2 separate regions of the Homo sapiens genome follow, and region 2 is linked to region 1. A link means that fine-mapping ties the variant in region 1 to the expression of a gene that starts in the linked region. Tissue or cell type: monocytes after Pam3CSK4. Region 1 holds a variant in brackets; the other region holds the start of a gene. All regions are shown on one strand. Distances are between the middles of the regions.

What was found. PIP is the estimated chance that this variant, and not a neighbour inherited with it, causes the effect.
Region 2: LINC00900 starts here. The variant in region 1 is fine-mapped to the expression of LINC00900 in monocytes after Pam3CSK4 (Quach 2016, PIP 0.95).

Annotation. Positions count from the first base shown.
Region 1 is chr11:115,695,615-115,698,296 of GRCh38, forward strand. The region is part of intron 2 of LINC02698 (long intergenic non-protein coding RNA 2698); the gene reads left to right. Among named protein-coding and RNA genes, the nearest start is that of LINC02698, 38 kb to the left of the region's middle. The variant T/C (reference allele first, on the strand shown) is at 1,194.
Region 2 is chr11:115,759,050-115,761,731 of GRCh38, forward strand. LINC00900 (long intergenic non-protein coding RNA 900) reads right to left here and starts at 1,151. Exons shown (of 3, transcript NR_034148.1): 1 at 981-1,151. All of the region lies in intron 2 of LINC02698 (long intergenic non-protein coding RNA 2698), which reads left to right. RefSeq lists an enhancer at 211-745.

The DNA.
Region 1 (2,682 bases):
TGAGGAAGCAAGGCCCCTCTCTGGGAGGAACTTCTTTCTCTGGGCTACTTAAATTCCTTCTGCTGGAATTGAAGTTTGTTTTCTCTTCTGCAGTCTTTTGGGGAAGGAGAGAAATGCTAATTACCCTCCTCTATTACCCTTCATTGATTTATGGGAGGGGAGCTCTGCCATCCTCTGGTCTTCCTCCCTCTCCCAGTGTGCTTCCCCCTGGTTGTACTAACAAGGGCTTAACTAGAGTTGAATAAGCGCCAGGGCAGCTTAGCTTACAGTACCTCTCCGAAGTTCCTCCTCCCTCTCCTTCTCTTCTCCTCTCCCCTCTCTTCCTCCACCCCCTCTACCCCCACCAGTGTCTGTCCTTGGGGGCTCAGGGCAGAGGCCACCCTCCTGGGGGAGATGATCCCCTAGAACTGCCCAGGTGGGCTCACCTCTGCTCCTCCCCGGGAGCAGCCAGCAAGCAGCCAGGGAGCCCTGGGAAGCCAGGTCAAATGCAGAGGATGTAGGAGCAGGAGCCAGGGGGAGGCAGGGTGTCCACCAGGGAGGTGATTAGCTCTGCAGTGCCTCTAATAATAATCTGTGAGGCTAACAAACAGCGCAGAGGAGGAGACAAGTGCAGCCCCTGTGCTGGCTGTCTCTGTCTTTGTTAAGGTTAGAGGAGGAGGGAGACTGTGTTAATTGCAGACTTATCATGATTACCTCCAGCTCTCAGCCCGAGAGCCACAAGAGGCAAAGCCATGGATTAGTGTGGAGATTGGAGGGGCTGAGAGCTGAGGGGGTAGTGTTCCCTCTGGGCCCTGGGGACCCAACTTGTGAGAAAACCCTGAAATTAAAAAACTCAGTTCATCCATTGATCAGTATTGACGGGGTGCGATGTGTTCTGTAGAACATTCAAAGCAGTTCTGAATTTCATTTTTTAAGATATGAGATATAAGCCAAAAAAGATGAGTCTCCATCTATCCCATCACAGAACCTCCCAAGGCACACACACGCCCTCTCCCACACACACTCACACGCACACACACTTGGTTCTGAGCCCTCCTGTGTTAGACACTCTATAAATATCCATCACATTGAATTAAAATGGAAACTGGACCTAGAGAGAAGGGGTGTGGCTGTTCTCACTCTGGCTTTCCTAGTTCTTTTGCTGCTCCATCCCGATCCTGTAGCTGCCTGCAAAGGAGAACACAGAGGTGAGA[T/C]TAGAAGGCCCTCAGCCAGGGTTTGAGGAGGCCTCTGGGAGTCAGCTGACTCACCACGGGGGCAGCAGCAAAGGCAAAATCAGGGCCAGGCTGGGAGAGCTTGGACAGGACACCAAACCCAGTCTTAAAGCAAATGCAGAGTGTGACTGAGAGAGTTTGAGCAGAGCAGAGCAAAATGAAAACCAGTGAGAACTAACTCAGCTGCAGAAGGAGCCATGGAAATTATCCGAGGAAGCAAAGCCCCCTCACTGGGAGGAACCTCTTTCTCTTGGCTAATTAAATTCCCAAGCTTTGGAAGCCTGGCCAGAGCAAGCGCCCTGGTTAACATCACGTAGGGCACACCCAGACCATGCCTGAGTAGGGGGATGAGGTGTGGGCATCTAGGCTTACTGAAGGCTAAAACAGCAATTTTTTTTTTTTTTTGAGATGGAGTCTCGCTCTGTCGCCCAGGCTGGAGTATAGTGGCACGATCTCTATTCACTGCAACCTCCGCCTCCTGGGTTCAAGCAATTCTTCTGCCTCAGCCTCCAGAGTAGCTAGGATTACAGGCACCCACCACCATGCTCAGCTAATTTTTGTATTTTTAGTAGAGACGTGGTTTTACCATGTTGTCCAGGCTGGTCTCGGACTCCTGACCTCAAGTATCTGCCTGCCTTGGCCTCCCAAAGTGCTGGGATAACAGGCGTAAGCCACCGTGCCTGGCCTATGACAGCAAATCTTAAAAATGCAGTTCTCTGAGGCTAGCCTCTGAAAGAATATGAGCAAATTTTACCCCCTTAGATTATAAGTTAAAGACCTCAAAGGGGCTTGTGGAAATAAGAAACTTTGTGGAGGATGCTGGAAAGAAGGTGGCTGGAATTTCTCCCTCGTGGGTGGGTTTGTCTCAGGCAGAGATCTCTCAGTTAGCCAGTCAACTGTCTCTTCCATCTGGGCAGTGCATGGGGACAGCGGCCCAGGCTGGTTAGCCAGGGACTACACATGGGGCTTGGACCTGCCCTATCCTCTGCAGCTGCTTCAAATTTTCTTTCATCTGCTCTCTCCCTGGTCTCCCCTCCCCTCACTTCTATAGACCTCATTGTCGCTTGCAGTGGCCTGAAACCCCACCCCTTCCCTAGGCTCCCAAACTTGACACCCCCTAAGATCTGATCTATGGCAGCAGGACTGGTGGTGGATCCATGAAATAATCATGATAATAATAATGAATAAATGAATTACCATCTATTACATTCTTAATATATGCCAGGGCCCTGAGCTAAGTGTTTTATAATGCAGTATTCCATGTAATCCTTTTAACAGTCTTGTGAAAGATCATTTAATCATTTTATAAGACCTGATTTATAAATGAGGAAACTGAGGCCCAACAGCTTGCCTAAGGTCAGTCAGATACCAAGCTTGTTAAGCCGGGATTCAAATTCCGAAGTGCATGCTTTCTCTCCTATGGAGAGGACTGGGGAGCAGGGAGGTCAAATTCCTTGACCCATCATTTCTC
Region 2 (2,682 bases), 63 kb after region 1:
GATTTTAAGTGCACAGTTCTGGTGGATAGGAGAGTCGGTGTGGACTGCAGTGGTCAAGTTAAGTCTGGAGCAGAGGAGTTGCTGGGTGGATATGCTAATCTCAAGCATAAGGCAGGGGAGTTAAGGATGGGGCGCCCAGGGTCCTTTGTGCGGAGCAGGGCAGCTTGGCTACGGTCATCTTTATTTCCTCGAAGGCCAGACAATCTGCGGGGAACGTGGGGAGGGCTCATCTGTTTAGAAGCTGTGCTTTAGGCAAGCTTGAGAAAACATCTGTCCATCCTTGTCCAAAGTGGGTAGCTAAGGACCCCTGGCAGAGAATCACCCATCTTGGGAGCTCTGAGCACCAAGGAGGAAAGCCCTCCGAATTTGAGCGGTGGTTCTCAATGGGAAAGAGAAAAGGAGTTTGCCCATAGCCAAGGGGAGAAGCTGGAGCAGGGTTAACCTGCGGCTTGGGGTTCAGTTGAGCAGGCTGGGCGCCCGGCATGGGAGGTAGAGGTAGGGAAGCTGGGCCTTCCCTTCGTCTTTTCTGCGACCAGGGACGGGTGGCACCTCGTGGTCCGCAGGAATACCTGTGTGGAGGGCTGGGGTTTGGCTCCTGCCGGCTCCTGGAGTATGCTGGGGGTCCACCCCCCGCCTCCCTGCGTCCCCTTCTCCAGCCTCGCCTCCCCAATGCGCTTCCCGCCTCTGCATCGCCGCCGGCCCCTTCACGCCTCTACCTTGGGCGGGTTTGGGGTAAGGGCCGCGCAGACCCTAAGGGAAGGCCCGAGGTCGCCGGAGCTCCTCCTCTCGCGGCTGAGTGAGGGTCTGGGAGGCCAGATGAAGGGAGCTGCTCGGCTGAGCTGCGGACCAGCGCGAGAGCAGCGGGCAGTGGCGGACCAGCGCCAGGGCAGGGCAGGGGTGGACAGAGGGCTCTCCCCACCCTTCCCTCCTCCAGTGAAAGTACCAGAAGAGATGGCGGCCGCTCCGCCGAGTGTCATTACCGCGGAAGCAGCAGAAGCCGGCGGCAGGAGCGGGCCCGAGAGCCCGCGGCCAGTGGCCTGCGCACCCCGCGCCCAGCGCCCCCGCCGCGGGTCATCAGTGTCAGCGTTGAGGGGTCCCGGGGAGCGGTTGCAGGGCGGCGGCGGCGGCCGGGTCATCAGAAGCACAGTGGAGCCGCCCCCTGCTTTGGGAGGAGCAAAAGAGCCTCTCGCTTGCCTCCCGCTCGAGCTCCTTCTCCTCTTCCTTTTCCTAGCGCTTCTCTCCCTCCCTCGGCGGGGTCCGCAGAGACAGCTGGGCAGGCGGAGGCTGCGCGCCTCTCGCACCTCCACGCCCACCCTCCCGCCGCCCCCCCCTCGGCCTGAAAGATCTGCGTCCACACCACCCTGCACCCAGGGCCCGTCAGGTTTTGCAGAAGTTTGCTGAGGGTCCTCACAGGGGGTCTCCCAGGGGAAGGGGTGGAGGGCTGGAGGGGCCGCGGTGGGAAGAGGTGGCAGACGCCGCCTGGCAACGGAGACCCTACCCTTTCTAGAAATTCAGAACGCAGAGAAACCAGTGCCCAGCCCTGCTCTTCAGCAAACGGTGTATTTCAGCCCGAGTTTCCTTCCGGGGGTTTGGCTGTGAGTGTGTGTGACCTCCCAGATGGCGGCACGGTTCAGATCCCATGCTCCCTCTGTTTCACAGCTGCCAGAGACAGACTCAGGGATTCCGGGCTTTGGAAGAAGGTCAGACCATGACCTCCTATCTCCTGTTCTCTTCTCCCCTCACTCATCACCCGCTGGCCACCCCACTCTCTGCACCCCACCATGCATGCTTACTGTAGACCTAATCACTAATTAGCCCAAGGGTTGACTGAGCGTGCTGGTGAGAGTAACAGGAGGCAGGTGGATGGGGAGGTGTGATGCTGCGCGCATAGTAGGTGCTGAAAACATGCAAGGGCACGATGCACATAAGCTAGACAGAGCCCTTGGTCCTGCTGGGTGCTGGGGGAGTGAGATTCAGAGCAGCAGACCATCAGCCGGGTAGACAGAGGTCATGGCCCCAGCAGCTCAGCCCCATTAGCTAGGCTGGTGGGAGGCAGCCAGTGCTTTTGAGGGCTCAGACAATCCCTGCGATTCAAGGGCTGCTCTTTGGAGCTGCTGCCAAACTAATCTCAGGCCTGCAGTCTTGGGCCTTTCCTTTAGTCTCAGCCCACTTGCTGACTCTGCCCTTCAGAGGAGGCCCACTGCCTCCTCCTGGGGCTGAGGATTAACCCCTAAAAACTGAGTTTTGTTTGCAGAGCTATCTCCAAAGCTGAGGGAGCCTCTGGAGTCTCCTGTTCTTGCTGCTTGTTGACTAGGGGGATCCTTGAGGTCAGATGGTGCTGGCAGCAGCTCAGCCCCTAGCCCCAGACACATATTCAGTCTGCAAATACAGCAGGAAATCTTTCTCACCTGGCCCAGCCATCAGTCCTGGCTTGCCCAGCCCTGCAGGGCACTGCCTAGTAGGCCTTTTCCTACAAGCTCAGCCCCACCCAGCTACGGAGCCTGCCCTAATTGGGCTAGGAGGGCACTAGCACCTCCCTTTTACTGGTAGGGGAAGTGCTGTACTCAGATGTCTGCCCACAGATTCAGGATCCAGTATGTTTGTGGCAAACACCCTTCCCTTGATCACCACTAAAGTGGTTCCATTCCTAGTGCTGGGACTCTGCCTTAGTTTCCTAATTAG